Regions from separate parts of the Homo sapiens genome. Here all the other regions are reported to be linked to region 1. The links are microRNA targets in miRTarBase. Many come from high-throughput screens and were not tested one by one. Region 1 holds a microRNA gene; each other region holds the end of a gene's coding sequence. Distances are from middle to middle.
What was found. The annotated mature microRNA hsa-miR-6077 reads GGGAAGAGCUGUACGGCCUUC and lies in region 1 at 1,480-1,500, shown strand. An mRNA with a match to its seed (bases 2 to 7 or 8) in the 3' UTR can be bound and repressed. Matches are read on the target gene's strand: a 7mer-m8 pairs with bases 2 to 8, a 7mer-A1 pairs with bases 2 to 7 and ends in A, and an 8mer does both.

Region 1 (3,846 bases):
CATCAAAACCAAAAGCCCACACTGATGGCAAAAAATAATGACACAATAATGAGAGAGAGAGAGAGAGAGAGACCTGTCCTATAGCCATACTTAGTGTGTAAAAGCCAAAGAGCTCAATTTCTGCTCATGATACTTAATAAAACAGACGGAACATGAGCCAATAATTCAGTGGGTTCAGATCTGCACCAAGTGCCTGTTGGATGCAGGATTCTACTGTCTCCAATAATATGTCTCAGATGGCCTAGTTTTTTTTTGTTGTTTTGTTTTGTTTTGTTTTGAGACAGAGTCTCGCTCTGTCGCTCAGGCTGAGGTGCAATGGCATGATCTCAGCTCACTGCAACCTCTGCCTCCTGGGTTCAAGCGATTTTCCTGCCTCAGCCTCCCCAGTAGTTAGGATTACAGACACACACCACCACATCCAGCTTTTTTTGCTTTTTTTGCTTTTTTTTTTTTTTTTTTTTTTTTTGTATTTTTAGTAGAGACGGAGTTTCGTCATGTTGGTCAGGCTGGTCTCGAACTCCTGACCTCAGTTGATCAGAAGTAGGTGAGGTCAGAAAACATACCCTGGGAAATGCTGGCACAATGCCCAGAACCGCCATCTCTAGGCCTGGGGTTTTCTTTTGTAGTGGAATACTAGTATTCATGCAATGCAGGGACAAGACCAATTAGATACTTCTGGGAGTTAAAAAGAGATGAATTTACAGTGCCATTTGAGAAGGGGTATTAAGGAATTTGCCAGGGTACTGACGCGTGTCAGGTGCAAACTGCAGGTTGAAAGAGAGCTAAGTATTTTCTGTCCATGAAGGTGATAAGGGAGGGCCTGAAGAAAGACGGACCGGGAAGGACACTGGCGCCAGAAGTAGGAAAGGGCTGCTTGGGGGTGGGAAGGATGGGTCGGGGTGCTATCTAAAAAGTTGCCTGGCAATGGATGTAGGATATGGAAGCGAGACATCAAACAAGAAGTTGTCATTTAAATAAAGTCTGAAGAAAGACTAGATATGTAAACAGCAGGAGATAATAGGGAAACTGGACCCCGCTGCTCATAAAACTTCCTGCCTTATATTTCAGGGAGGATCGCAGCGCATTTCAGCCAAGACAAGTAAGACTGCGGTTCTGACCTGCGGGCCTCCACGAATTGCATTAGGGCACCTGGGCTCCGGGAAAGCCATTCCCCTACACAAAGTAAGCGTGTTATGTCTGCAAATGAACGGGGACACTAAGAGCCCCAAAGGCCCTGCTTTCATCCCAAAGAACAGCGCCTGTCTGCGTAGTTTGTACCTGGCTCTATGAGGTGAGAACACATTCCCCGCTAGCACAGAAATCCTACAAACTCCTGAGGGGGCTGCGGTTAGAAGCAGGGGCTGTGTAAAAGGTGACTCTGGGGGCTAGAGAAAACCACGAAGATTTTCACAGAGCGTGAGAACCCAAGACACTGGAGACCATGGACCAATCTCTGCAAAAAGCAGCCCTGCGTAGAAAGGGAAGAGCTGTACGGCCTTCGCGCTAGTTTGTTTGTGTTAAGGCTGACGCTCCCTATTTCTCCTCAGTGGGAGAAGCGACATCTTAATTCCTATTTCCCAGCCTTCCACTGTAAGAATAACACGTCCAAGACACAAATCAATGAAAGAAAAAAGTAGCCCTTAGAGTACAGCGTATTCTTGAAACTACAAAAAATCAGGGGAAAGCGCGAACGCAGTACCACTACCACAAATTATGCAATCGAGTTTCCCACATTTGGGGAAATCGCAGGGGTCAACACATCTGGAGTGCAATGGATAAGCCTCGCCCTGGGAAAACCACCTTCGTGATCATGTTATCTCCCCTGCCAAGTAAATATGAGCTCCTGCACCTCCGCCCCGTACGCCTCACCCTTTACACGCACGGTCGCTTGCCCCGCGCACCCCCCAGCCCTCCTAGCCCTGACACACAGCTGGGACTCTCCGGCCGGACCAGCGGTCCTGAGCCCGCTCCCAAGGCTCGGGAACTCCTTCGAGGCGAAGCAGCAGGTGGGGAAGCAGCAGCTCCTGCGCTGCCTCATCTACATAGAAGTCGCCCTATCCGTGATGTCACCGACAGTGCCTTTCCCAGGCCCCATCTGCCTTTCTGCCAGTCAGCCGACCAACCCGCTGCCTGAACCAGCAAGAGGAAGTGACGTCTGCCTCTCCCTTTTTCCCTCCCGCCCCGGCATCTGTTTTCGCCCAAAGAAGCTGGTCCTTAGCCTATCTTGTGAAGCAAACTTTCGGTGGCCAGATGGAGCCTGGGTACTCTTCTTCACATAATGACTTTTATTTCGCAGACTAGAACGTTTAGGACTACAAAAGAAACCGGTTTTCTTCACATACTTATCCTTGTAATGTAGCATTCCGCTTGAAATTGGAAGCCGTTCAATGTCACAGAGAAACCATATTTATGAAAGTAAAGAGGCTTCTCAGATGACTGCAAACCAGCCTTCCTTACTGATTTTATCACTGGTAATGTTATAAAAACAGTTGTCAAGTTTAATGAATCTTGTAGTTTTTTTTATTTTTATTTTTATTTTTTTCCAAATTCAGTATTGTGGAAAAATATGCTGCCACAGAAGAAATGATTGGACACTCTCAAATGTGGTGTTGCACTTTGTCATCTTTTGCACAGCCATCTCCAGACCTTATTGCTTACCTCGTGTTAGTTTTTTATATTCTGCAAAGACAAAACCAAAATAATCCAAATTTGACAAAAATACCTGGGATACATCTTATTTGTGATGCTTAACAAATGTCTGGATCATCTTTTCTTATATGGGATTATAATGCAGGAAACACTGTGAAGTAAGCAAAGTTGGAATTCCCAAGTCAAAGACCATTTGAATATTTACAAGTAGATTTGAGACAGGAATAATACAGGGTGGTCACAGGATAACAAATTCTAGGCAGCAGATTTACATGACTTGAGGCTATGGGCTGATAAGATGCTGAAAAACCAGGGTGTGGACCAAGCTGGCTAAGACTGACTGGACCCAATGTGGTGCTGGATTTGACGTAGGTTTTACCTAGGCCCTCATTATACGCTTATTAACATACTAAATCACACACCCACCAGTGCCATGACAGTTCTGAGACCAATATTTGATGTAAAAATGGATGGCACCACAGTTCTGAGAAATCTCCACCTTTACCCAGGAATTTTCATCAATATTCCACTCCTTGGTTAAAGAAACCCATTGAGATGAAACCCCAGAACCCATTGTTCTCTCTCAGGTATGCCCAAACTCCCCTTTCTTGAGTGTGTACTTTCTGCTTTGCAATAAATCTCTTCTTTCACTATTTGCTAACTCATCCTTGACCTCATTCTTGAGATGGTGTCAAGAGCCTGGACACCACAGCTGGGGTCGAGATCCTACCAGTGTCCGGGGACCTCCCCCAGCCCACCAGTATCAGATTCTATTCCATTGCTCAAATCACAAAACATCAAATGGAGAATTCTTCTTTGGAGACCACAAAGTAAAGATTCTGTGGCATGGTGGCCAGTTAGGCCACTGGAAGACATGGCAAAATATTGAAAATGAGGGATTAGGTGACAGCGTAGTAACTGCTGAATGTGAAATACTTGATCCAGACCCCATTCCCTGTAGACTGACTGGGAGACACATTGTCCAGGTAGTAGTGGAGAAATACTTTCTGGGTATCTGACCAGCCTTTGTGGAAAGAACTGGCACCATCCTGCAGATGTAACCACCTGATGGGTTCTTCCTGCCCACTGTACACACAAAATCAATTCACGGAGACCATGGCATTGCAGTAAAGAGTTTAACTGACACAGGCTAGCCATGACATGTAGGGGACAGAGTTATTACTCAAATCAATCTCA
Region 2 (3,846 bases), not on the chromosome of region 1:
TTTTCAACCTCCTGGACCAGCTTTCTTGAGCTCTAGGGAATATGCTATTTTGAGAGCTTAGGATCTCACTAACCTTGCATTCATTCAAAGTCATCTCCTAGCTTTTTTCAAAACATCGACATTTGCTTCATACACAGAAGATGTTTCCTGCACAACTTTAAATCAGCCACCAACTTTCCCTGAAACTTTAAAACAGTCTATTTTTTGTCGTTGTTGTTGTCTATACATATTATTTAAAGAGGCTACTACCAGCATACTTGTGCTTGCTTGATAATGTATTGGAATGTAAGATGTCAAGATTTTGTGAGATGTGAATGACAAAGCAGGATTAGGCACTGAGAGCTTGGGCGGGAATGTCATGGTTATGGAGGCTGCACTGTGCTAGGCTATCCAAGGAGAGAGTTGGAAGAAAGACTTAATTCTTTTTCTTCACATAAACAGATTATTTACCATTTAAAATGTACTGAATATGGCCTTCATAAACAGATGTAGGGATTTTTGTTACACCCATAATCCCAAGGAGAGGTCAAGATTTCCAGCATTTATTTGGCACTTAGTTACTTAATACTTTATCCACCGTTTGGTTTCCTGTCTGATGGCCACATTGTAACCCTCTTGAAGGAAGACAGTGTCCTATATGTCTTAATTGATGGTGATATGGGAGAACCACTGATCCCTGCAGTCATTCCAGTGTCCTAGGTTTGAAATTTTGGTGAGAGGATTGGATCTCATTTTTCACCTTTTGTGGCAGGAAAAGGAGAGGGAGGAGAAAGGATGAGAACATTTTAGTAGCAGAAGCTGTTTTGGGTGGCTTTAATTCTCTACTCATTTTGGGAAAAAAGGGAAAGTGTTGAGACAATGCATAAAGAACAGAGCTATCATGGGAATTGCAAGAAATAATAAATTTCCATCTGGCATTATTTGGTAAGTGCAGAAGTAATACCTGTAAACCAGGTTTAAAAATCAGAAACACTTCTAAAACATCATGTTTAAAATTTGCTTTCAACAATACATAAAGTAACTCCTAATGGTAATCATCTTGGCTAAATAAAACAGCCTTTGCTTTCAATATGTCATTTGTAAATGTTACATTGTTCTGATATTTAGTGATATTAAGTATTTTTCCATTTTAAATGTATTTTATAGAAGAATGATTAAAACCTTTTAAAATTAAGGGTGTCCATGACAGTGCCTGAGCTCAACCAGCAATGGTAAAAGGGCATCAGGATTCCCTTTTGTTCTGTTACCTTGACTTGTATGGGAATTAACTGGTCCAATGTCTCCTTTGGAATGTGCTCTGTACTGGTGTAATGTGCCACTGGCAACTCTAGGTAATGTTTTCCATTACCCAAGAAACTGATGTGCTCCAATAAGTTAGGCACACTGAGAATCTTGAAAAAGAATGCATAATTCTAACAAACTAGAATTTCCATTTTATTCAGCCGGGCCATCAGAACAATAGCATCTATACCTTCGAAACCTCCTCTTAACCTCTCCCAGGCAAAGAAGGAAAAAGTGATCATATTGAATTCCTCAGAATGGTGGGATCTCAAGACTTTTTAGAAAGTGCTTATTAAGTATAAGAGGCTTGAAATATAATGATGATAAATGGTAGCCTTTCTGGAAATAATTTTTGTGTAATCTGTTTAAAAAGATTTTTTGGATGCATTGTCCCCATTTGTTTACAGGAAGTGTATTACTTTTAAATATAATCAATGAGGTATTTATTTGTTAAATAACTGGGTCAAGATTTCAGATTAAACTAAGAGGTGTGATTAACTACACTTCTCCATCCTCTGGGAAGCAACAGGTACCAGGTTTGTGATGAACCTGAGGTTCAAATGTGTCCGTCTTAGAAGAAAGATCCCTGAATCACAGCAGTGTGATTGGATGGAAAAACACGTGGAGTAGTTGATTTAAAATATGGCAGTGTTTTCCATATCATCCAGAGTAACAGCAATAATAACTTGACTTTATTGTGTTGTGTCCATTTACAGGACACTGTCTATTAGGATTGTGTCACAGGGGTGGAAAAACTACCAGAGATTTAAAGCAAAATAAGAAACGCAACCTAATTTATGCATTCACTAGAAATTATCCATATTTTTGCTATAACTAAACTATAAAAGAAAAAGAGCAAACAAATCATAACATCTGGCTCTAATTCCCCATTGAGGCGCTTATACATATATAAATCCAGTATGTTTCAGATAAAACAGGAAAAAATCTTTTGTAACAGCTGGTCACCATGGTATTGCAGCTGATAGTTACAGCTATTGGTCTAAGACTACATACGTGGAACAATATTAGCTTGTAGAATTCAATGAAAAATCAAACTACCTTCCCTGGTTCTTTAATGCCTCTCTCCAGTTGTGCTGATTGTGTCGTTACACACCAGGTGCCATGCACTCTCTTCCTTCAACTGCTGGTATCAGTCAGGAACCCCAGATGCCAGAGAGCTGGCATAGATTGAGCTCTGCTTAAAAACTGGCAAATAATAGGTTCTCTTTGCCCCTTTCTTTTCCGACTTATAGGACATCAAAGGAAATAGTATATAAACACGAACTAGTTTCTGTAACAGCCCATTAAGGTTGACTAGAAGCAAAAGGAAGAGAATGTTGGGGGCCATCTGTAGGTGCATTAGCTTTTCTCAAGAAAAAAAATACCCACGTTCTAAGGGCTCTTAAAAACGTAGAAAACTTGCCCTGTTACCACGGGTCTTTAGAACACCTCTAAACACACACAAAATAAGACAGATAGTACCTACAAATTTCAACCATTGCTTAAACTCTAAAAGCATTTTTTGTATTATTTTGTTTTGATACAGAAGGGAAAACTCAGCTATAAAGAAATATTAAAAAGGTTTTTTTTTTTGTGATCAGTCTCAAGAATATTCCATTATATTCCATTGCCTGCCTCCCCCAACTTGTGCTGATATTTTAAGGATGTGCTCAAGAGTATGAAGCAGGGTGCTTTTGTCCCTTTCTCTCCTCCCTAGTAATTCCCTCCTCCCTATCCCATAGCCAAGTAGCCACCCCTCAAATGAGCCATTCCTTTTTGCTTTCATCAATGGTCTCTGTGAAGTTGGGGTCGTTGTTCATGATGGCGGCGTCCGCGCTCTCTGCCGACTCCGCCCCCTTTGCTTCGTTGGTATGGTAGGTGCCCTTGTGGCGGAACATGTACCGGATCAGGAAGACCAGGGTGCACAGGATGGTGAAAATCACCACAGCAATGACGCCTGACGGAGAAAGGAGAAGCACGAGAGGTTAGACAGGGCTTGGGAGTCCCTCCAACACTGTCCCCACTTCACTACAGCTCCGTCAGACACAGCCCTCTCCCATATAAAACACAACCTCCAAAACAACAAAGATAACAAAAATGAAGTAAGATGTCTGTTTTTGTCCATGAAGGAGTAACAGGAAAAACAGGAGTAACTTGTCTTCCAGCCAAAAGTAACTAAAATACTGGACACAGTCTATGAAATGACAGTCTACAGACATTAGAAAACAGGCAGAAAGGAACCATGATGTCTGAGAACAGAGAAACAAAAAGGAGGAATCCTACATTTTTCCTAGTTTTCTGGCTGGCAGCGATTTTTGGACAGCAGTGTAGGGAGGGGCAGCACAAGAAAGCACAGTGGTTTCCCTGAATGGAGAGGGGAGATAGAGTGGGCGCGCGAGAGAGCTATGTATAGAAAGAACCCTAATAATCTGCACATAAGTCTCTCTGAATTTGTGGCCGAATAATACTAACATGTGCATGTACAGAATAAAAGTCCACAGGCCAGGCAAAAAACCAGAGCTCACGGAGGGCTGGGAGATGTTTATAGTCCAACAACCACACTGA
Region 3 (3,846 bases), 100 Mb from region 1:
CACAATTGTCTACCAAGTTAAAATGAAGAACTTTGTCAGGTACTCTGCAAAGGAGGGATGGGCAGAGGGAATATTTCACAAACTTAGGCCAGGGGCCTAAAACATCTCTGGCCTAAGGAAGAGAAGCCTATAAGGATCTTTAATACTTTACCCTTTAACACTCTGGGTAGGTGCTGGTGGATGTGCCCTGTACCACAGACCGCCACTCCCTTCATGAGGAGGAGAACAACATCTTTAAGCGGTCAAGGAAGAAGGAGCGACAGATATTGCCTGTGCTGCAAGTGCAGCTTCTTGCGTGAGTGACAGATTTTTAAACTCAGGACTTTGTGCCAGAGTGCTCTGGGAGACTGGGGGACTGGAAGCTCTTACCAAGACCATAACCCACACAAGAATCTTATGGCTGGAGATCTGCCTAGAGGAGACAGAAATGGGATCATCTCTGGAACATAAAAACCCTATTTGAATTAGCTGGGTGTGGAGATGCACACCTGTAGTCCCAGCTACTCAGGGGGCTGAGGGAGGAGAATCACTTGAACCTAGGAGGTGGAGGCTGCAGTGAGCTGAGATCGTGCCACTGCACTCCAGCCTGGGTAACAGAGCAAGACTCTGTCTCAAAAAACAAAAACAAAAACAAAAAAGCAACCCTATCTAGTAGGATATATATACTAGAGTGGGCTGCACAGATTGACTCATGCTATTTCATCCTCAGTACCAGTGAGTAGCACATGTTTGAAAAATAGCTGCTAGAGTAAGGACTCATTCTATAGCCAGCATAGCAATTTGGTCCATAAACAAGAGCTCAGGGGGTCATTGTAAGGAGACTTCCTAGTGAAGAGCTCATGGAGTAAGGTTGGGTTGCTATCTGCCTTGAGAGTGACTTTTCAGACAGTGTCATTGTGGAAGGGACTTGAGAGGCAGTCTAACCAGCTACCCATCCTGTAGTAGCCTTCCCTTATCCATGTTTCCAGCTCCTTATGTTGCTCTTCTACTGCTGGGAAGCTCACTAGTAACTGCTTCTGTCTCTTTCTGGTTTCAGGGCTGGACTCCTTGCCACCAAACCAGGAGGCCATGTTGTCTATTCTACCTGCTCACTCTCACACTTACAGAACGAGTATGTGGTGCAAGGTGCCATTGAGCTCCTGGCCAATCAATACAGCATCCAGGTACAGGTGGAAGATCTGACTCACTTCCGAAGGGTTTTCATGGACACATTTTGTTTCTTCTCATCCTGTCAGGTTGGGGAGCTGGTAATACCAAACCTCATGGCCAATTTTGGCCCCATGTACTTCTGCAAAATGCGTAGGCTGACATAGTATCACCCAATCCCTGAAGCAAGAATACAAAGGGTATACTCTGTTGGATGCACCAGAAACTGGAAACTGGGACCAGTGGCAGAGATGCACTCTCGGTCCTGTCTCCATCCTGTTCGTGTCTTTCTGCAGTTTTCGGCAATAAGAAGTAGAAGATTTGCTGTCCTGCTGTCCAATTGTGGAGCATCAGCAGGTTTCCAACTCACTCATTAACCCCTACCCCATCTCCAGGCCTGTACTAAAGTTTGCTGCCCGCTTAGGGGCTTAGAAGGAGAAGCCAGTGAGCAGGCTCACACTAAGTTGTAAACATAGGAGAAGCATTTGGCCAATAAAGTTGTTGAAACTCTATAGACCTGGGGCTGCAGTTGGGGACTTCATGTCAGTGCAAATGCCATTAGTTCCATTTGTACCAGCCAGTTACTGAGCCCCTGTCACCCTTGAAGTGAGTTCCACCTGACCAGTCTTGAGCAGCCAACAGGCTCAATTAAGCCCGCCTGGTTTTTCCATATGGCTCATGATCTAATTTAAGGAACAAGTAACTAAAAATGTTAAGCCAGTGCAAAATAATCTGCTTACCTACTCACATTGGAAAAACCCTCTGAGCTGAATAATTCTGGCCATTCCTGCTGTCAACAATACTGCTGCCCAAATGTGGCTTAGGAGGCTGCTTCTGCCACAAAACCGTCATACTCTTGTGCGTGCCTTGTTCTTTGTTCATTCATCTAGCAGGTATTCCCAGACCTCGTGTATGACAGGTAGCTAGGGAGCTCTTGGAGATGTAGCAGTTGGGATTGTGGGAGATTACTGGGCTTCCTCATCCTTTAGAATGGTAACTCTCCTTTTGCTTTCTGAACACCTAGGAATTTCCTGATGTTTTGTTTTGTTGGATTCCAGACTTTTTGTTGTTTCTAGTCTGCAGCTGAGCTCTGGTGCCTGTTCTTTGGCCCACCCCCTAATCCCTAACTCTTCCCTCAGCATCACAGGGCTTCACTGCACACACTGTGTTCAGGGCAAGATTTCATCATTTACTGACTGCATACTCGATATGTTGTTTTTGTAACTTTAGCCAAAAGAAAGTAACCTTTAGTGGCAGGGATATAAAAAATTGCTCAGGGTCACTTGCAGATATTTTATTTTTAAACTTTTTTTTTTTTTCCTGGAAAACATCCTGTGCAGAAAAGGGTATATAATTTTAGAATACCTGAAGGCTTCTTGGCTTTTCCACTTTCCTTATTCCTCCTCTTCCTGCCACTCTTTTTGTCCCTTCTGTCTTTCCTGCTCATCCTTATTTGGGTATTAGAGGTGTCAGTTGAGGAGGGACTTTAGCTGAGGTTAAGCCTTCTTTTGGGATTTGCATTGTAATTGAGGGCCCTGGAAGATCTCTGAGACTCAAAATCAGGTGAAGCTAGGAAGATGGAGCTTTAAGGAGCATGGCTAGTGCTCTGAGTAGGACCGTAACCGCCTCCGTGCGTGGCATATGGTCCCTGCATGCTGTTCACTCTGTATAGTACTTAGTATTCGCTGAGGCTAAGAGGCCTCAGGTGCCTGGGCTTCTGCCCTTGGACTCCTGGATATCCAGCCTAGTGCTAATTGAATGCTAAGCAGTGGTAATTCAAAATGAGAGGGTCCCCTGCCTCTAGAGTCATCATCTAATTGGGGACAGGCAGACCTAGATAAGAAAAGCAGAGAACTACTTTGGAAAACAGTTTATCTGCTGTAATTGAACATTCAGCTACCCTATAACCCAGTTAATCCAATACTGGGGATAAATCCTAGAGAAACTCATACATGTACACCAGGAGATGTGTACAAGAATATTCATAGCAACCCTATTCACAAAAGCAAAAGCCTAGAAATAACCCAGATGCCCATGAGCAAGAGAGTGGACAAGTAAACTGGAATATTCACATAATAGAACATTATACAATTGTCAAATGAACTATAATGATACCTAACCATATGGATGAATCTGAGCAATAAAATAATTAAGTGAAAAAAGTTTAATCCCAGAAGAGTAAATGTAGCATGATGCCCTTTCTAAATGAAAGGTTTTTTCTTTTCTATGGAGTTATTCTTTACATACAATATAGTTCATAAATTTTAAATATATTGTTTAATAAATTTTGATAATTGTATATAATAGTATAGTCACCATCAAGATGTAGAAAATAGAAAATAGGCTAGGCACAGTGGCTCACGCCTGTAATCTCAACACTTTGGGAGGCCAAGGTGGGAAGATCACTTGATCCCAGGAATTCTAGATCAGCTTGGACAATGTAGTGAGACCTGGTCTTTACCAAAAAAAAAAAAAAAAAAATTAGCTGGGTGCGCTGGCATGTGCCTGTGGTCCCAGCTACTCAGGAGGCTGAGGCAGGAGGATCACTTGAGCACAGGAGTTTGAGGCTGCAGTGAGCAGCCTGGGCAAGAGAGTGAGACTCCGTTTTGTGCCACTGCACTCCAGCCAGGGTGACAGAGTGAGACTCTGTCTCAAAAAAAAAAAAAAAAAAAAAGGCATTGGGATTTATAATGTGCTGTT
Region 4 (3,846 bases), not on the chromosome of region 1:
TCTTTTCCTCTCTGAAGACTGACACAGCTCCCAGATAACCCCTCCCCACTTTGAGGACTTGATGCTGTAGATGGTTTTAATGAAGCCATGGCCTTCTCTGGCAATACTGTAGGCCATCGGTGCTCGGAACTTGCTCAAATCTATAGCAAAGCAGAGAGAAGCTCAACAGCAGCAACTTCAAGCCCTAATAGCAGAAAAGAAAATGCAGCTAGAAAGGTAAGAAGTCATGATGTAAAGCAAGTTCTTTACACAGCTGAATTTCCACTCTTCCTTCTGGAATGATCACTTCTTGTCCTTATTCTTCATCATTGTTTTCCCAGGAATAGCATCTCACTTGTCATCCTGATTTGAAGATTTTAAAAAATAAAATTACATTTGATGGGAAGGAAATAGAAAACTTGTTAATATCAAACCACCTCTAGTAGTTTGAGCATGAAAGGGTCCACGAAGTTGGCTGGCTCTCTGAAAGAAGACTTTCCTAGGGCTGGAGATTTCTCATGGGTGGCTCTGGGTAGGGCTTTGCCTCTTTCTTTCTTCATTCTGAACTCACACCATTTCTTGAAATCATTTAAACCTCTATATCCTTCTCTAGAAGAATTAGGTCTGTGGTTTACTTCATCTTTTTTTCAGGGCCTCTAACAATTTTGTTTTTCAGGTATCGGGTTGAATATGAAGCTTTGTGTAAAGTAGAAGCAGAACAAAATGAATTTATTGACCAATTTATTTTTCAGAAATGAACTGAAAATTTCGCTTTTATAGTAGGAAGGCAAAACAAAAAAAAGCCTCTCAAAACCAAAAAAACCTCTGTAGCATTCCAGCGGCTTGACCAATGACCTATGTCACAAGAGGTGGCGTGTAAGGAATGCAGCCCCCTGAAGACAGCACTACAAGTCTGGGGGAGCCAGTTTTAACATCAGTGCACAGCTGCTGCTGGTGGCCCTGCAGTGTACGTTCTCACCTCTTATGCTTAGTTGGAACTAAGCAGTTTGTAAACTTTCATCCTTTTTTTTGTAAATTCACAAAGCTTTGGAAGGAGAAGCAATAAATTTTTGTTTTCAAATGGCTTGATGTACCTTTTTTCCTGTTGCTCTTGAAATATGTTTAACTCCTCATGAGAGAACCCTGGATTCTCTATCCCCTAGTCCACAAAACAAACCAGGCAGTGGTCAGCAGCTACCTTTATTTGGATCACACACGTGAGTCAGACAGTACCACTAATCGGGCCAATATGGCTTGTGAGCAAAATGGGTGAAAATAGAGGGAACTGACTGGGACCTGTTGTCTAACATCATTTTAAGGTTGAACTTGAGCAAAGACTTAGAGAAAGCTGATGGAATGCCAAGCATCAACGTGAAGAGACCCTCTATGCACACAGTGGATATGTTATGCCTGGCTGTAGCCACCTTCTCTTCTGAAAACAAGATGGGAATGACGGAACTGTATTAAAAGATTAAGTTATCCACTAGGGAGCATACTAGCACACTTCCAGATCAGCCTTGAGATGCTAGACTTCAGATACAGGGACTTGTGTCAGGTGGCCTCTAGAAATGTGGAAGACTAAGATTTAGAAATAAACTAATTTAAAAGCAAACAAACAAAAAAAACTTTCGCCTAGGATGATCTGTTTACAACAGAAACAAAAACATTTTCCAGTTTAATCCATTTGACTGAAAGTCATTGTTGGGCTGACCCTTAAGGAAAACTTAAGTTTAAACTTCCTTTGCATAGTATGTTTTCTCTTTTTTCCTTGGGTTAGAGGTGGGAACAAGAAAACATTGATATAGTTTTGAATTAACATTAAAGAGGCAAAATTTCACATTTAAAATGGCCCAAAATATCCCACTATTCATTTTGCTGACAGGTGATACACTCTTGAGAATCAGGAGTGGAGGGTTTAGTCATAAGCATATATGCTGTGGGTCAGGTGACTCATGAACATGTCAAACAGGCCATGTTCTTTAGCAGTTTCTGGTCTGGTCCTGCTTTTAGTAATCTTGCGGTGGAACTCAGGCACACAGTTATTTGGTACCACTTCCTTATAACCTAGCCCACACCCCTTTGCCCACCCTCAAGCCGATCGGTCTGTTCATCCCAGTGCCCTTAGAAGGTGAAGGTTTGGGCTGGGCCCAGTGGTTCACGTCTGTAATCCCAGCACTTAGGGAGACTGAGGTGGGCAGATCACTTGAGCCTAGGCGTTCGAGACCAACCTGGGCAACATGGCAAAACCCTGTCTCCACACACACAAAAAAAACAAAACAAATTAGCCATACGTGTTGGTACACACCTGTAGTTCTAGCTACTTGGGAGGCTAAGGAAGATGGCTTGAGCCCAGGAGGCGGAGGTTGCAGTGAGCCGAGATCATGCCACTGCCCTTTACTCCAGCCTGGGCAACAGAGTGAGACTGTCTTAAAAAAAAAAAAAAAATGGAAGAAGGTGAGGGTTTGACATGGTTCCTGACACCATCTTGCTCTTGTGCATTGCTGCCAGTGTTTCAAATGCTGCTGAAGACGTGGGTTCTGAGCAGTGTTCCTTGTATTGTATCCAACAAGCAACCACCCTGTAGGCATCTCTACCCTGGGCCAGTGGTTGTTTCCTTCATTTTTTTTTTCTTTTCTCTTCATACTTGTAGTAGGGGCTCCGCAACATGAAAATTAAAAGTATGAATGGGATGAGTAAGTAGGGGGCATAGACAGACACAAGGGTTAACCGTTCATGCAAAGTCTCAGGTCTTTGTCCCTTGAAACCACTGGCTTTGGAGAAATCCTCAAACAGAAATGTGGAGAGTATCGGAATTAAGGTTGTCATGGTGTGAACAGAGTAGATGATTGCAGGAGTTCGAATCCACTTGCAGCTTCCTGAGGTAGTCAGGGGAAAAGAAAAATGGTTAGGTCTGTTCATGACTCAAAGGTGTCCATGACCTTCCCACTGTCTCTGCCTGCCTGCTTTCTTCTACTCCCTTCTCCAAGTGGAAACTCGGAACTGGAAACCTGGATGTGCCACACTGCCCAACATGCAGACTTACGTGACAGCTCACCGACAGCTCGCCAAAGAACCAAGAATGGGGGTCAGAACATAACTCGGAAAAGCTCTAGGGCAATAAAACTGCCATTACCGGTTAAACCTGTGTGGTACAAAATCCAAGGGGAGGGAAATCCCTGCCCCATGGCATCTGTTTGTTCAGTAATTATATATAGGTGAGAGGATCAGAAGGCAGATTCAGTGACCCCAGGGGGTGCCAATGGGAAACGAGCATTTTCAGTGGTTTTAGCTTATCAAGTACACGTGTATGGTCACCTTTTTAAAAAAGCATTGATTATATGAGAACACTAAGAATAATTTTAAAATGAGAAGCACATTAGGGATTAGCCTGATGCTACAGCTTATAAGTCAGTATGATACTATCCAACGCAGAGAAATAAAAGCCAACAAAAAGAGAAATTAATTCTGTTGGGGAACAAAACAAAAGGGAACAAGCTCATTGTTTAAGTGGTCTCAGGCTTCATGTGTATGCAAGGGATTTCCAGACGACTGAGGCAGCCGTGCAGGCCTGCTGACCACAGACATGAGCCTGAGCCACACTAATGTCCCTTTACAAGATCTACCCTGGCTATTTACCCCAGATCCTGTAGCATTCTCCCACAAACTATGGGGACCATCCCCTTCCCTTTGGAGATACTTTCCCAAAAGATTTCTGGGACCTGATTTCTGAGTAAAAATGGGATTTTCCCACCATTTACCAACCTTTGAGGAAGGCATACGTTGCAATGGGAAAGAAAGGCAGCTGAAACACAAGCTCGCAAAACAGAAAGGACTTAAACCAGGCTGGGGGCTCCTGTAGCAGTGGGT
Region 5 (3,846 bases), not on the chromosome of region 1:
AACCCAGACCCATGCCCTGGGACCCACACACGCTGTGTGTTCGCGTTGCTTCAGAACCAGGATCAGTGTCCCCCTCTTGGTGTTATCTTCCACTGTTCCTGGCTCTTAAACACAATACCATGCCAAACAACCTTTTAACTAGCCCCTAGCCTAGGGCCTGATTATTTTCTTAGGATTAATTCCACAGGAAGTCCGTCTCCTGTGTTTTGCTACGCATCTTGTGTGGCTTTATGTAGTGTTCTCCAAAGTTGCCTTGGACTTAGAAGCGTACCTTTGCTGGAAAATCAAGGAAAATGTGGGGAAGAAAGCTGTGCCTAGAACATTCTTTCATAGCCTTAAAATGTAGACCGGAACGGTGGTACCATGAGCTAGCTCAGACTCACAGCCAAGCTTGGTTGGAGCCTCGGAGTGCTGTTAAAAAAAAAAAAATGGAAAGGTTTACGTGACAATAGGGGTTTCTCATTTCTTCAGGTGGCACCAGTTAGAGGCAGATCCAATGAGCCAGTCACAGTTGCCAATCAGATCCCTCCTGCCCTCACACCTGGCTCCCCTTCCTGGCCTGTGGTCATTTGCTTTTCATCCCCAGACTTAACCCGATTCTCTCCCTGCTCTTTCAGCGACATCACCCCGCCCGGAGAGCCTGTGAACAGCCGGCCCAAAGCAGCTTCCCGCTTCCCCAAACTGTCCCGGGGTCAGCCCCGGGAGACCCGCAACGTGGAGCCCCAGAGCGGTGACCTCTGACCTCGACAAAACCGCAGCCACGGGCCCTGTGCGTGGCACCAGCTGCGTCCACCCCAGCCACTGCCGCTGGCCCCTCACCTCAGCGTGACAACCACGTCCACCTGGTGATCCTGAGAGCACACGATTCCCAACAGTTACACAACACCCCGATTAAACTAATCAGTCTTCGAGCCGCATGATACCGTGACCCGAGAGACCAAGGCAGCACCTCGCTGGAGAGACTGGGACACACAGTCCTTCTGCTTCTGGGGTCTACCCTGGGCTGCAAGGGCTGTTCCTCCACCTTTCTGTAGTTCAGGGCTGGCAGGAGGGTGGGCACCAGGTCAGGCTGGGTGCGCCATGGTTGAGAGGCAAAGGTGATCCCCTATATAGGAAGGTTCATGCAGAGCCAGCCTCTCCACTCTTTCCCACGTGGGGACTAGAATGACTATTAGCCTCTCCTTTTGCTTTTTAAGGTTATTACCTGGCCTAACCTAGGGATGGCTGGCTTTGCGGGGGGGGGGGGGGGGGGGGGCATGGTTCCTTTCACTGCATTTTCCACCAACAGTCATTAGACACCTGGCACTGTCACAGCTCACTTTTCCAGAGGGATATTCCTGTGGCTTTGGCAAGGAGCCATTAGTGATGTGCAACTTGAGTTCAGAGAACTTCCCCTACCTCCCCCATGGCTGGCTTCAGGAAGGACCAGTGCCCTCCATAGCCTGAGGCCACCTAGGCCCTCGCCAGGCTTGGAGTGGGGGGACTCAGACATCTGGCCCAGCCATCAGCAGCAACCTAGTAACCCGGCGTCATCCAGCGTGTCCAAAGTAGCATTGGCCCTACAGTCATGAGAGACTTGGGTCAGGGAACCACTGCAGAAGGTTCCAGGGTTTTCAAACCAGGCTCCATGACTATGAAGTTGGACCCAGTGTGGACACTTAACAGATCATGTGTCTCTCCACTAAAAACATTTTCCATCCCGTCTGCCCCCGACATTGTCCTTGATAACAGAACTCTGCATCCCCTAAGACAGAGTCCTCTGTTCCTCCCATGTCAGGTGGCTCTCAGAGTACAGGGACCTTGGCAGGTGGAGAGGAGGATGGGGACCAGCAGCTGGGCAGCCCCCAGGGCTCCTCCTCCAGTGAGCTCACATCAGAGCACCTCACAGAGCAATAGCCGTCCTCAGATGCTCAGCAAAGTTGTGGCAGTTTGCATTTCTAGGGTAAACTAACTAGGAAGGATGTCGTGAAATGGACTATGCAAGAGTAAGTTTGTGTGTTTCGCCTTAATCTGAGGCAGAGACACAGCAGAACCTGAGGAGAAAAGCAGGTGGAAGGTGACGGTTAGATGGTAAGCCATGGGCTTGTCCTGGAACTGCTTCAACTCAGTGGCTTAAAATGAGAACTGCCCAGGTGAGCATGGAGCATCTCCTAGGCTCGAGGACATCTCTGGAGAATCATCTGGAAGGTTTATACTGTGCCTTCCCCTCGTAGCAAAAAGGAAGATTGTTCATGGCCTTTAAGGAAGGCTGAGATCACTCACACACAGCGCCCCCCCACCCCAGAGAAACCGAGTCAGCCTACATGACTTCCAAGGGGACCTGGGGCCAGATAAGCCCTGCCCCGGTGAGACCAAATGAGCTGGAGCATGTATGGAGGTGCGGACCCTGCAGTCAGTTTGCGAGTGTGGAGGACCCGAGACATCCTGTAAAGGCAACTTGGTCTCCCTCCCACTCACCTGCCAACATTGCTGCAATACACATGGTTTATCTGAAATTCCAAGGCCAGAGTGCACATCAGCTCACATGACTGGCAACTCTAAATAGAGAGCCCTAATGGACTGAGGCAGGAAACGTCTAAAAGCTCAATCTGCTGTATGTCATGACCCCTTAGGTTGGGTTTATGCCACATCGGTCATTTTGAAGTAGGTGTTTGATGCCAGCTCAGAGACTGTCTCAGGAGTGCCTCCCTGGCCTGGGTAGCTACCCTGGAGGTCATCTCCCTGTTCTCTGTTGGATAAAGGAACCTCCCCCATCTGTGACATTCCCTTGGGCCCAGGCTTATGACCTGCACCTTTTCTGACACCTGCCCCCAAAGCACAGGATGTGAATTGGTCTCTCTCCAGATACCCCACGAGGAAGCACCTTGGACATTCTGCACATGATAATAATGCAACAGTCCCCCATTGCTGAGAGATACTAACCCGTGAGAAACAAGTATGCTCTCAGCTGGTATTGAACTGGTGGGAGAAACTGCCTCCTACTTTTATAATACTGAATTATTCACAAAAAACCTGGTCTGCTCTCCAAAATGAGAGCATGTTCCTGGGAGCCACATGGGGACCATCCCCAGCTGCCTGCTCCTGGTACCTCCCCCATGATCATGCACAGACCGTAGAGTCGAGTCATCTCGCAGATCCAGACCATCTCCTCTCATTCTCACTCTAAAAATGCTGGTGGCCCGCACATGACAGCAACTCCCCGAAGCCTTCCCTTTGGAATCCCATAGAATGTTCTGCAATGATTGGGTCCATCTTGCTGCTCAGAAGAATCCCGTCCTGCTCTCTAGTGTGGTGGGATGAACTTCAGGCAACAAACAACTGGCAGGGTTCCCAGTTCCTGGAGTTATGGAGCAGAAACACCCAGGCCTAGCAGAATTGTGGCTGAAACCTGGTGCCCAAATTCCACACCCTGGAAATGTGTCAACTGCCTGTCAGCCTGGATTCAATTCTGAGGGCTAAGCCACGACCTTATCCATGAGTGGCGAAGACACCCCTGAGGAAAGGATTGCTTGCACCTCACATCTGTCTTCTTCTAAGATTACTCGGAGATTTTCAAACAACATCTGAGAACAGAAGCCCCCTCCCCTACTCAGAGAGGAACGAGGGTGGCCCACCTCTCAAGGGCCTTGGATTCCTGGGACCACCCTTTGCTGGGAGGAAGAATCCACACCGAATCCTTCTGTCTTCATGGCCTGCTGTGCTGAAACAGAACAGCAGGTTCCATCTTTCACATCTTTTTTTCTCCCCCAGATGAAAGACGACTCAGGAACGGTAGGGCTGGGCAGAGGTGTCTCTCCTTGAGAGACAACAAAAGCTTCTAAGGGAGGGAGCTTAAAGGCTGCTAGA
Region 6 (3,000 bases), not on the chromosome of region 1:
CGCTACTGGTCGGTCGACAAGCTCGGGGGCTGGCGCGCCGGGAGCTGGGACTACCTGCCCCCGCGCAGCGGTCCGGCCGCCTGGCACTGTCGGCACTGCGCCAGCCTGGAGCTGCTGCCGCCGCCGCGCCATCTCAGCTGCTCGCACGATGGCCTGGACGGCGGCTGGTGGGCGCCACCGCCTCCACCCTGGGCCGCCGGGCCCCTGCCCCGACGCCGGGCCCGCTGCGGGTGCCCGCGGTCGCACCCGCACCGCCCGCGGGCCTCGCACCGCACGCCCGCCGCCGCCGCGCCCCACCACCACAGGCACCGGCGCGCCGCTGGGGGCTGGGACCTCCCGCCGCCCGCGCCCACCTCGCGCTCGCTCGAGGACCTCAGCTCGTGCCCTCGCGCCGCCCCTGCGCGCAGGCTTACCGGGCCCTCCCGCCACGCTCGCAGGTGTCCGCACGCCGCGCACTGGGGGCCGCCGCTGCCCACAGCTTCCCACCGGAGACACCGGGGCGGGGACCTGGGCACCCGCAGGGGCTCGGCGCACTTCTCTAGCCTCGAGTCCGAGGTATGACGCGGCCCCGGGGGCCCCACCGCCCCCTTGGTCAGCGCAGGCCACGGCCCGAGGGGGCGCCCGCAGTGGACAGGACCCGCGTGGGTTGGGAAGGAAAGCAGTGGAACTGGCCGGACCCCGCCTGGAGCAGCGTCCTGCGCCCCCTGGTTCTGGAGGAACCGCAAGCCGGAGAGGATTTGGTCCCTCAACTATCACCCAGCCTGAGAACGAGGGGGCGGGGGCCTTGGAGCCCACCGGACTTTTTTTTAAACCCGACAAGGGCTTTTTAACGTCACCAGATGGGGCGGGAGGTGGGGGGTTCACGCCACTCCCGCGTCCCACCTCCACGCCCGGGGCCGTGGCCCCCACATCACTGTGCAGCTCCCCGGCCCCAGCCGCGCCTCCGGGGAAGCCCGTTTTTAACCTTTCATCCATTGGGACTCAAAACTGTGAGACGCGTTCGCCAAACTGTGACCCCAGACCTTGGCCCCGCCACACAGAAACCCCTGACCCAGACTGTGACATCCGACTCCTAAAATGGTCATCCGACTCCAGACTGTGACCCCTGACCCCAAACTGTGACCCGAACCCCAGACTGTGCCCCGACCAGACTGTGACCCTTGACATCAAACCGTGACACCCCCTCCTCCTCTTCCACCCTCGGTCGCTTTTCCCTACTCTGACCTAGGACACGTCCCCAACGGAAGCCCCGCCTTCCCTTGCACCGCGATGAACCCAACCTCCCTGAAGCCAAAACTTCCCACCCTGCCGCACCTCCGGACCACCCCACTTGCCACCAAGCACATCCTCTCCAAATCCAACCCTTATTTGCGACCCTTCAGTGATGACCCAGCAGACCTCCAAAAAGCCTCCTCTGCCCAGATCTCCAGCCGGGTCTGGGGCTGGGTTGCGGAGGGGAGGGTCTGGGAGTCCACACTTCTCCACCAACTTCCCTTCCCACTCTCTTATTCCACATTGCAGTGTTTGGAATAAACCATGTTTTTATGCCTCCTCAGTCCAAGCCTAAGCTCCGTATCTGTTAGCCCCCCTCAAATTCTCTGGAGGAAACAGAAACACAAAAGTCCCACAGGGGAAGAGGAGACAGAATTAGAGAGAGAACAGAGACTCTGAAAGGAGGTGCCTGGGGAGACAAAGACCAAGAAAGAGGAGGTGGGAAGAGACCCTGAAAAGAAAGTCGAGAGGGTACTGGGGCAGATAAGAGACCCCAAGAGAGTGGTGAGATAGATCCCGGAGACAAAACATATTAAGATCAAAGGTATGGTTTTATTTCCTATGGCTATAGGTACCAAGGCTTGCTACATTCTCAATATCCTGTTCATGCAAGCTAGGAGAGTGTCTGACATATCCCAGCCAATCCGCATTATCTTGAATGCTGTTAATCTCACCAATGAGAATCTATTTCTAACATTTCATTATGTCAATTAGCCAAACCGCTGGTGCTGATGGGCGATAAAGAGAGACGAAGCACTTGTAATAGCTGCCTCCAGAGGGTGGACTTTCTGATTAAGTGCTCGCTGACCAGAGCTGAAATGTGAATGTCTGGTTAGGCAATTGACTGCCCCTAGAGGGTAGATTGAACCGCCTAACTTACAGATAATATCCATCCTGTCTACAAGAAAGCATTTTTGAAACAAATGAAAGCCATCACAACAGAGAGAGGAAAAGAAACCGGCCTTATGGGTCCTCGGGGAGTAGAAACTCAGTCTCCTTGCCAGTGAAAGAGCAAATTTGCATATATGAATAATTAATTAACTGGAAAGAACGCTCTCGGAATCAAACTGGACAATGGGGAAAACAAGCCTCCCGTAGAACTACAACTCCCAGAAGGCCTTGCCACTACCGCGAGGAACAGCGCCCAAAGTCACGCGAAGATGCAGTTTCTCCGTATCCGCAGGCTTCTTTCGCTGGCGCCATTACCTGAGTTCTCCTCCAGCGTTTCCGCACCCTCTCCGATTAGCGGTCCCAGGAGTTTCCAAGGTAACCGCGCAGTAGGGCGGATCTCATTAGGCGGAAAGCGAAACCCGGAAGTGACGCTCTTACCGGGTGTCAGCAGCGAGAGGGTTCGAAGATGGCGGCGCGCAAGGGTCGGCGGCGCACGTGTGAAACCGGGGAACCCATGGAAGCCGAGTCCGGCGACACAAGTTCCGAGGGCCCGGCCCAGGTCTACCTGCCCGGCCGGGGGCCGCCGCTACGCGAAGGGGAGGAGCTGGTCATGGACGAGGAGGCCTATGTGCTCTACCACCGAGCGCAGACTGGTAGGGCTGAGTCCGGACTCCAGGGTCCTGAGGTGGCTGATCCCGAGCCTTTAACCTGAGAGGTGCTCGGGAAGAGAAGGCTGGGGTCTAAGAGAAGTGATTTCATACCGGAGGCGGTTGATCCATGAGGGAGGTGGGGACTGAGCTCTTACTGTCCCGTCTTAACTCGTAAACCCCGCCTTCC

Region 2: the mRNA of CNTNAP2 is a reported target of hsa-miR-6077. Seed matches in the 3' UTR shown: 7mer-m8 at 2,608-2,614 and 7mer-A1 at 404-410.
Region 3: the mRNA of NSUN4 is a reported target of hsa-miR-6077. Seed matches in the 3' UTR shown: 7mer-m8 at 2,274-2,280 and 7mer-m8 at 2,550-2,556.
Region 4: the mRNA of TMEM97 is a reported target of hsa-miR-6077. Seed matches in the 3' UTR shown: 7mer-A1 at 2,425-2,431 and 7mer-A1 at 1,551-1,557.
Region 5: miRTarBase lists SNX29 as a target of hsa-miR-6077. The part of its 3' UTR that is shown has no 7-base or 8-base seed match.
Region 6: the mRNA of GRIN2D is a reported target of hsa-miR-6077. Seed matches in the 3' UTR shown: 8mer at 1,190-1,197.

What each region holds. Positions count from the first base shown.
Region 1 is chr1:148,386,815-148,390,660 of GRCh38, forward strand. It overlaps MIR6077 (microRNA 6077), which reads left to right and starts at 1,468; the gene lies at 1,468-1,549. It also overlaps the pseudogene RNVU1-2. RefSeq lists an enhancer at 771-1,610.
Region 2 is chr7:148,414,809-148,418,654 of GRCh38, reverse strand. CNTNAP2 (contactin associated protein 2) reads right to left here. Exons shown (of 24, transcript NM_014141.6): 24 at 1-3,238. The coding sequence ends at 3,039. The region is part of intron 1 of LOC105375554 (a long non-coding RNA gene); the gene reads left to right. Among named protein-coding and RNA genes, the nearest start is that of C7orf33, 170 kb to the left of the region's middle.
Region 3 is chr1:46,360,534-46,364,379 of GRCh38, forward strand. It overlaps NSUN4 (NOP2/Sun RNA methyltransferase 4), which reads left to right. Exons shown (of 6, transcript NM_199044.4): 5 at 171-295; 6 at 1,037-3,846. The coding sequence ends at 1,313. Among named protein-coding and RNA genes, the nearest start is that of NSUN4, 22 kb to the left of the region's middle.
Region 4 is chr17:28,325,543-28,329,388 of GRCh38, reverse strand. It overlaps TMEM97 (transmembrane protein 97), which reads right to left. Exons shown (of 3, transcript NM_014573.3): 2 at 3,742-3,846; 3 at 704-2,855. The coding sequence ends at 2,596. It overlaps IFT20 (intraflagellar transport 20), which reads left to right. Exons shown (of 5, transcript NM_001267776.2): 4 at 113-216; 5 at 656-1,063. The coding sequence ends at 737. Among named protein-coding and RNA genes, the nearest start is that of IFT20, 8.0 kb to the left of the region's middle. RefSeq lists an enhancer at 2,171-2,220.
Region 5 is chr16:12,567,889-12,571,734 of GRCh38, forward strand. It overlaps SNX29 (sorting nexin 29), which reads left to right. Exons shown (of 21, transcript NM_032167.5): 21 at 618-3,846. The coding sequence ends at 741. SNX29-AS3 (SNX29 antisense RNA 3) reads right to left here. Exons shown (of 4, transcript XR_007064988.1): 2 at 272-411. Among named protein-coding and RNA genes, the nearest start is that of SNX29-AS3, 41 kb to the right of the region's middle.
Region 6 is chr19:48,443,377-48,446,376 of GRCh38, forward strand. GRIN2D (glutamate ionotropic receptor NMDA type subunit 2D) reads left to right here. Exons shown (of 14, transcript NM_000836.4): 14 at 1-1,555. The coding sequence ends at 561. It overlaps GRWD1 (glutamate rich WD repeat containing 1), which reads left to right and starts at 2,607. Exons shown (of 7, transcript NM_031485.4): 1 at 2,607-2,816. The coding sequence starts at 2,630. RefSeq lists enhancers at 494-1,185, 2,358-2,437, 2,598-2,687.